2 separate regions of the Homo sapiens genome follow, and region 2 is linked to region 1. The links come from fine-mapping of genetic effects on gene expression. A gene starts in region 1. The other region holds a variant in brackets. All regions are shown on one strand. Distances are from middle to middle.

What was found. PIP is the estimated chance that this variant, and not a neighbour inherited with it, causes the effect.
Region 2: its variant is fine-mapped to the expression of CAB39 in whole blood (INTERVAL, PIP above 0.99).

What each region holds. Positions count from the first base shown.
Region 1 is chr2:230,711,002-230,715,383 of GRCh38, forward strand. It overlaps CAB39 (calcium binding protein 39), which reads left to right and starts at 1,841. Exons shown (of 9, transcript NM_016289.4): 1 at 1,841-2,229. LOC124907996 (formin-like protein 16) reads right to left here and starts at 2,325. Exons shown (of 4, transcript XM_047446832.1): 1 at 1,078-2,325. The coding sequence starts at 2,325. The coding sequence ends at 1,567. RefSeq lists a silencer at 1,613-2,552.
Region 2 is chr2:230,665,294-230,669,675 of GRCh38, forward strand. No RefSeq gene overlaps it. Among named protein-coding and RNA genes, the nearest start is that of LINC01907, 33 kb to the right of the region's middle. RefSeq lists enhancers at 1,125-1,990, 1,941-2,235, 2,205-2,684, 2,725-2,774, 2,795-2,874 and 2 more. The variant A/T (reference allele first, on the strand shown) is at 2,659.

The DNA.
Region 1 (4,382 bases):
TGGACAGAGCCTTATCTTTTTTTTTTTTTTTTTTTTTTTTTGAGATGGAGTCTCCCTCTATCGCCCAGGCTGGAGTGCAGTGGCGCGATTTCGGCTCACTGCAACCTCCGCCTCCCGGGTTCAAGCAATTCTCCAGCCTCAGCCTCCCAAGTAGCTGGGGTTATTTTTGTATTTGTAGTAGAGACGGGGTTTCAACATACTGGTCAGACTGGTCTCGAACTCCTGACCTCAGGTGATCCCCCTGCTTCGGCCTTCCAAAGTGCTGGGGTTACAGGTGCGAGCCACCACGCCCGGCCGGACAGTCTTATCTTTTGGCTGGCTGATTTCAACAGGCTTCTCGCTGGTCCCCCTGCTGAAACCCTCAGGGCTTTCAGTCTGGTCCTCATACCACAGCCACAGGGATCCTCCTGAAATGTCATTCCACGTCCTTTCTCTGCTCGCAACCCTTCAAATTGCTTCCCATCTCCTTGAGAGTAAAAACAGGAAGTCCTAACTTTGGTTGGTAGGGCCGCACTTCTTCCTCATCTCTTCCCCTATCTGGGGCCGCTTTCAAGCCAGCAGATTCTCGCCTCAGGGCCTTGGTCCTGCTATTCCCTCTGCCTTTCCATACAGAAAGCTCCCAGGCTCTCTCTCTCCAGGAAGCTGCTCCCTGAATGAACACTGTAAATAACAACACCCTGCTTTCTCTCCCCTCCTCACCCAGTGGTGTTTTTAACTGTCCAGTATTTGTTTTTTTGTTGTTGTTTTTTGTTTGTTTTGTTTTTGTTTTTTGGAGATAGTCTCGCTGCGTCGCCCAGGCTGGAGTGCAGTGGCGCGATCTCGGCTCACTGTAACCTCCGCCTCCCGGGTTCAAGCGATTCTCCTGCCTCAGCCTCCTAAGTACCTGGGAATACAGACGCCCGCCACCACGCCCGGCTAATTGTTTTTTGTATTTTTAGTAGAGATGGGGTTTCACGGTGTTGGCCAGGCTGGTCTTGAACTCCTGACCTCGTGATCCGCCCACCTCGGCCTCCCAAAGTGCTGGGATTACAGGCGTGAGCCACCGCGCCTGGCCCAATTGTCCAGTATTATACATACCTGTAGGTTTATTAGTCAATTATTTGTCAACTGTTTGTGCTAGGAGCATGGACTGTTTCGCTCACTGCCCCATCCCTGACGTACAGGAGGCGCTTAAAAAGTAGTTCAGTTACACATTAAAAACAAAGAAACAAAAATACACACATATGGCATTTGTATGTGCCAGGCTCCGTTGTCAGAGCTTTGCAATGCACTGTCCCGTTCATCCTCAGAAGCCCGTGGCTGGTACCACTATATTATTACACACTTTTTTTTTTAATGTGTGAGGAAATCCAGGCACAGGGACGTGAAACAGCCCATAGATAGCAAATGGTGGAGCAGGACTTAAATCCAGGTTGCTGATTTAAATAGGAATATTCCCATTAATCTGGAACGTTCTGGCACTTGTCCCCCTGGATGCTGTGTCCCCCTGGATGCTAAAATGAAGCGATCTGCTCCAAGAAAGTAAGAATCGGTCTGCACAAAGTGGGATCCCGGCCTCTCGCAGAATTAAGCTTGAAGAGTTGAGGAAGTGGTCGTTGAAAGTGGGCGTGCGATTCCCGCAGTAAGAGCGCTCAGGCGGAGGAGAAAGGGCTGAGCCCCGCCTTGGAAGCTGCGGCGGAGGAAGAGGAACTGCGGGGCTTGGCTTCTGCTTTTCTCTGCGGCCCCTCCCGCTCGGGCCTCGCGCCTACTTGCGGCGCCCTGAGTCCGCCGGCCGCTCGGGGGCGCCCGAGGCGGAAGGGGGCGTTGCGGCACCGCCCGACGTCGCGTCCTCGGCGGCTGCGCAGTGCGCACGTCAAAGCCGGGCTCGGGCCGCAAGCGGGGCGAGGGGTTCGGGGAGCGGCGCGGCCTGGGAGACACAGAGCCTTCAGGCGCCGGGGCGGGGGCACAGGCGAAGACTAAGGCGGCGCCGGGCCCCACAGCAGCAGCCGCAGCCCAAGCGAGCGCAGCAGCGCGGCGGCAGCCGCGGGAGCCCCTGGGCAGCCGTCCGCCCGCGCAGCCGCCGCCGCCGCGGGAGCCCGTCGCCGGGAGCAGGAGCGGGCGGAAGACAACGGAGGGGCCGAGCGTCCGAGCCACTCCGCGGGGACCGAACGAGCAGCCCGAAGCGGCGGCGGCCGAGGACGGGGACAGCGACGACGCGGAGGCAGAGAAGGGAACGCCCGGCCCAGCCCCGTGAGTGACCCCCGGCCGGCCCTGCTCGTGGTGCGGACGCCTGCCCGGCTTCCGCCTGCCCCGCTGGGCCCTCACCGGCCCCGGGGCTGCCTCCATTTTCCTGGGTGGCGGCGGCCCCGGCCCAGCTTGTCCCCGGAGCCCCCGGGAGCAGCCGGGCCCAGCCTGCCCTCTCCGCCCGGCTCGGCTCCGGTCCCTCGCTGAGACGCTCCCTTTGCCTTCGCCGGCGTGGGGCGCCCGGGGGCCTGCAGTCCAGGCGCTCCTGCCTCTCCCCCCGTGGTTCTCTGGCGGGGCTGGCGGCGCGTGGTGGTCCGGGCCGGAGTCGGGCGGGCGGGGAAGTGCGGGCCGGGTCAACTGTCACCGGCTGCACCCGGGCTTCAGCGCCTCGCTCCCGCCCCTGGTAAACTTCCTGTTGTCGGGAGGCAGATACCAGCTTTGTGACCAATTCAGGAAAATGCCTAACTGATTTCTGGTTAGGAATTGGGCGGTCGGAGCGTTCTGGAGTTCAATGGAACCACCCCAAGCGCAGACTGCGTGCAGGCGCCGTAGTCGGCCCGCACCGGAGGGATTCAAAGGTGAAGCGGGCCCCGGTCCCCTCCCCCGAGGAGCTTAGGCTCTGGTGTGAGAGATAAGACGAGAACACAAATAACTGCGATACCGGGAAGGAGGTGATAAGTCCTGTGAAAGAACGACGGAGTGCTAGAACGGCACCCGGAAAAACCGAACCGATCACTTCTGCCTCGCAGAAACCTGGAAGGCTTCCTGGGCGGGGGATGCTGAGCAGAGTCTTGAAGGCCTGATGGGATTTAGGAGAGGAGGATTGCAGAAGAGGTGTGTGGAAGGGGTAGCAAAAGCGAGAAGACAAAGCCTAGAAATCATGGATAATTCCGTTTGTTGGCATGGTGCAGGGGGCGGGGGGTATTGGGCTAAAGAGGTATTTTGGGGCCAGATCCTTGAATGCTGTAGAGGAGCTATTTGAGCAGCATTCTAAGAGAAACTTAGAGCTCATTTCTCAGTGACTCATGAGCCCGGAAATGTAGGCTAGGGGATATTAAAGGCGCTCTTGTGAAAGGAGAGAGGAGGAGGCCCAGTCAGGAGTTGACATTCTGTGCCTTGAATGTAATGCAGTTTCAGATCGATTTTGACAGCTTCCCAGATAATCAAGTAAATCCATGCCCAGGCTAAGCAAAGTACCTTTGCAGAAAGCTTCATTAGATATCAGGCTCTTAAGAGGTAATGGAAAGGTGTCTATAAAATAAGCTCATCTGCACACAGAAGGTGTTTCTATTTGTGCGTTCGCTACAGTGCATAAAAACTTCTTGCACTTTGTATTAGGCGTATGTACTTTGGAATTACTAAGCTAAACCTACATTCTTTGAGGTGGCATTTGTGTAAAATAACATAAATTGATGATTTTTAAAAAATGGTTAGTAATATTCTGCTGTAGAAAGCCAGACGTAGACCTTTTACAGAAAGGTAAAACTTTGTTTTTATATTTTATTTTATTATGAAATCTTTATAGTAGAGCCAGAAGTGAAAGTGTTTAGCTTTATTTTGTAGTTTGTTCAAATTGTTAGGAAGTAATTAGCAGCTGTATTCGAAATCTAGAATATACGATCTGTGAAAGCAGCTTAGGGCCTAAGTTTTGTAAGCTTGCACTTGTTTGCGTGTATGACAAGTGAATGCCACCTTTTTGCAGTTTAAAAATTTTCTGCTTTTCAAAATAATACATGATCTTTGTCAAAGCTTCCAAAATTCAGGGAGTGCTAGAAAATCTTTAAAACATTTTCTATAATCTTACCACTTAGATTTGGTTACTGCTAACATTTTTGCGTATTTTCTTTCCAGTCTTTTTCTGTGTATTTTTTCTTTGCATAATGAAATATATTGTATGCATATGTATACACACACACATCTCTTATTAAGCTTTTCTTGTCATTAAATATCTTCATATAAAAAATTTTTACTCAACAATGGAAGTCTTCTAAGCATGTTATGTTTTCCTGACAAGGTTGTATTATTTACCTCAGATGAAATGCAGTAGTTAGGCTTAATAACTACTAGTGTGGACAGAACTTTTTCTGAAAGTTTCTTGTTTGAAGTATGTTTCTTTCTCTGTAAGACTTGGATCCTCTTGCTTGTTGAATAAAGTTTTT
Region 2 (4,382 bases), 46 kb before region 1:
CCTCCCTGTGTTAATGACAACAGCTCTCCACCCTGCTGCATACCCTAACATGCTGAGCAGCTTTCTTTTCTCCACACCACGTGTTGCCACCAGACAAAAGTGCTACAAGCTCCTGGAGGGAGGGACCAGGTCTATAGTTCACTGCCATATCCACAGTCCCTCATGTACTCCCTCAGTGCTTGCTGAGTGAGTGAGTGAATGAATGAATGAGCGAACCACAAGAATATTATTTGACCTCAAGAACACCGCAGGAACTGGCAGGGGGACCATGATCTTCCTGAACGCTCTGCATGAGATGACTTGGCAGATCCCACGGACTTGCCTTCTTAAAACCACCCTGGAGGCCGGGCACGGTGGCTCATGCCTGTAATCCTAGCACTTTGGGAGGCCGAGGTGGGCTGATCACGTGAAGTCAGGAGTTCAAAACCAGCCTGGCCAACATGGTGAAACCCCATCTCTACTAAAAATACAAAAAAAAATTTGCCTGCATGGTAGCGGGTGCCTGTAATCCCAGCTACTTGGGAGGCTGAGGAAGGAGAATTGCTTGAACCCTGGAGGCAGAGGTTGCAGTGAGCCAAGATTGCACCACTGCACTCCAGCCTGGGTGACAGAATGAGACTCCATCTCAAAAAAAAAAAAAAAAAAAAAAACCCACCCTGGAAACAGGGAGAGAATCAGAGCGAAAGCTTCCAGTTCAAACGCAGGTTGAGAATGAGGTTTGCAGAGCCAGCGGGCAGTGAGTGCTGACCGAGAAGACCCATGGCGGCCCACTGCAGTGGGGGCGGCGGCAGTGTGACCTTGTTGAAACTAGCCGCTCCAGTGACCCAAGGCTGGGGGAGATTTGGCTCTGCTACTTTCCAGCACTGTGAGCTTGGGAGCCTTACCTGCTCCGAGCTTCAGTTTCCTTACTTGTATAATGGGGATTAAATAACACACTTTTTTTTTTTTTGAGATGGAGTCTCACTCTGTTGCCCAGGCTGGAGTGCAGTGGCACTATCTTGGCACTATCTGCAACCTCCGACTCCCGGGTTCAAGCAATTCCCCCGCCTCAGCCTGCCCAGTAGCTAAGATTACAGACACACGCCACTACGCCCAGCTAATTTTTGCATTTTGGGTAGAGACGGGGTTTCACCATGTTGGCCAGGCTGGTCTCGAACTCCTGACCTCAAGTGATCCACCCACCTCGGCCTCCCAAAGTGCTGGAATTACAGGTGTGAGCAACCACGCCCAGCCCTAACACACTTTCTTTATTGCCCTTGAATCAACCGCATTCCAAGGCCAACGTCATTTGGAAAGGTTGACCTAGATTTCCTTTTCCATCTCCACTGGGACCTCCCCTTTCACCCACCGGAACCCAGGAGGCTCTGATGCCTTGAACACACAGAAGGGCTCCTAATCTTTTGTACATCAAAGTCGCCCCAGCTTCTTTGCTGCCCAAGCTCACTGGTGTGGTTTCCTAATGTCCCCGACAGTTTGGGAGATCTCTGCCAAGGCTGGCCACCTGGTACCAGCCCAGGTGCCCCACCTGTCTCCCACCCCCAGGTCTCTGGTCACCTCCTGGATACTGTGAGTACTGGAGAACTTGCTGCTTGGGGACACCAGCACTCTCTCCCCTGAGGGCTGGGGCATATGCTCTCCAGACCCACCTTTCTCCTTCCCTCTCAGGACCCCTGGAGTGATCTCATCAACATCTGGCTTAACTCATCAGGGGATTTTCTGCAAGTGAGAAGGCTAATGCCTCTGGGGCCAGGCAGGCCTGGTGAATGTATGACAAAACTGCAGGGCATGGTAGGAGCGTGTACTGGTTTTCTAGGGCGCCGTAATGAAGTACACACAAACTGGGTGGCTTAGAACAATGGAACTGTGTCGACTCACAGGTCTGGAAGCCAGAAGCCTGAAATCGAGGTGTTAGCAGCACCATGCTCCCTCCAAAAGCACTGGGAAGGATCCATTCCAGGCCTCTCCCTGAGTTTCTGGGGGTTGCTGGCCGTTTTTGGCATTCCTTGGCTTGGAGACACGTCACCCAGTCTCTGCCTTCAGCATGTGGTATCTTCCCTGTGTGTGTCTGTGTTCCCATTTCCCCTTTTTCGAGGACAGAAGTCAGATCAGGGGCCCACCCTACTCCAGTATGACCTCATCTTAACTCATTACATCTGCAATGACCCTCTTTCCAAATAAGGTCACATTCTGAGATACTGGCAGTTAGAACTTCAACATGCATATTTGAAGAGGGTGCAATTTAGCCCCTAACAGGGCTGACGAGCCCTAGAGGGTGAGCAAGTCCACTCCAGTTTACTGTTGCCCTGCAGGGCTCTGGGAGCCTGTCCAGGGTTTCCTGGGACAAGGTACTTTCTGTGCCTAAACTGGGTGAGTCCCAGGAAGCCAGCTTGGTTAGTCACCTCAAATGGGGCCCTATCTTCTTATGTTTCAAGAGAAGTCAGAAACTCTGACTTCACGTGAAATCTCCCAGTTTTTGAATGGGCATCTAATTTGACAAATTTTAAAATCCTGGGCCCCATCTGAGGGTGTCTAGCCTGCGAGTGGCCAGTGGTCACCCATTGCCTAGCATGGCAGGGCAAATTGTAAGACTCCAAAAACTGCAAATAACAGCAACTGTGGCCATGAGCTCAGGCTGGGCAACTTGTTCTGGGGCCCTGC[A/T]TCAGCCCCATCTCTTTGGAAGCCTTCCTGGGCCCCTACTACCCATGCTCAGCAATGCTTCTGGCTCCAGAAACTTCCAGCACTGTTTCAGATAGGGGGACTGGCATTTGCAAACTGTCTTGGAGTTGGTGACCCAGAAGGAGGGACCCCAGACTAGAGGAAGATGAGAAGGCAGAGAGTACCAGACAGTGCCATCTAGGGAGAAGAAACAAGTCATGAATATCTGATGTAGGGATGGGACGGACACTAAGTGGGAAAGGCCACCCTGCTGCCCAGCCCCCACCACCGCCAGCACCACCAGGCTGGCCATCTCTTTCCCACCTTCCCCACCACCATGCACGTGGTGCCATGCACCGCTGCTCCTCACCCACTCAGACCAGCTCCAGCACCTTTGGAGGTGAGATTAGCTTCTCACACAACTTCTAAGTCTTGATCATAGCACATGCTCTGCGGTTTTGCTGATGGTGACTAACGGAGGGAATTTCAGGCTAGATCAGAAAGGAAGGTGGAACAGGGTAAAGTGGGTGAGGATGAGGCTTTCTGGTTGCTCCTCCCCAGTGTCCAGGAAGTTGCCCATCCAAGCCTCTTTCCCCTGGTGGGGCTTGCCGTGCTGTGTCTCTGGTTTGCTGGCCTGGGCAGTGCCACACTGCCAGGCTTTGCAGATCTGGAAGGGGAAGGAACAAGCCAAAGAGGAAGTGGCATCAAGAAGAAGATGGGAAGGGCAGTCTCCCCCTTCCCTCTTGCCAGGCCTGCAGAATTGGGGAACCCGTATAAAAGACAACATCCCTGCTGGGAGCTGCACCCTCTGCCCGGCCCGGCCCCAGGTGCCCTGATCTGCCTGCCACGACCTGGGCAAAGCATGCTGTTCCTGCACATACTCGGGCTTTCTGAAACCTGAGAAGGCAAGGGGGGTGAGGGAGAGTCCCACACAGCCCAGGCCCAGCTGGTCAGGCTAATTTTAGGTTTTTCTCAGCCTGACTGAGGCCTACTAATCTCCACCATGCCAGAGAATGCACATGGAGCAGAGGCTGTCTTTACTCATGATGCCCCCTCATCCCTCCAAAAAGCTCCTTTTTCTGTCCAATTTCAATTTCTCTTTGACCTGCCCCAGGCCCACCCATCCCAGGAAATCTGCCCCGACCACCACCTCACAAAGAGAGCTCTCCCTTTCTCAGTGTGTGGGGTAACTGTGGTTGGAAACCACAGTACAGCCCTGTGTCCCCAGCCCTGGCACAGTGCTTAGCTCAAAATAAGCCCTTGGTAAGTGTGGGTGGAATGAATGAATGAGCGTTTTATTACACAGTGACAGCATGCTACATGCAGGTTAGGTCTAAAGTTAGCAAATAAGGTTAAAAGAGTTCAGAGTTTAAATTACCCTTGAAACTCCATCAGGAAGACAGCTTATTGGGATTGACATTAGATCTCCTCAAGAAGTCCAGTACAAATCCATTTCCTTTTGTTGAGGAGAGGGACCTGGACCGCTGGCCCAGCTCCCCAGCCCTTGGCCCAACACACGCACTTGCTCAGGAATTCCCGAGGTTTATGGGACATGCCTCCAAAAAAACATACATCTAGAACTCCTAGATGTAAGAGCCTTCCCATCGCCCATCAGCCTTCTCCAGGGACTCTGCCGCTGTTGTCATGACAGCCAGGACAGAGTCTAGTGGAGCCTCGGGAAGTCCGACAGGCTGAGAATGAAGTCAACCAGAGGCAGAGAGGGGCCC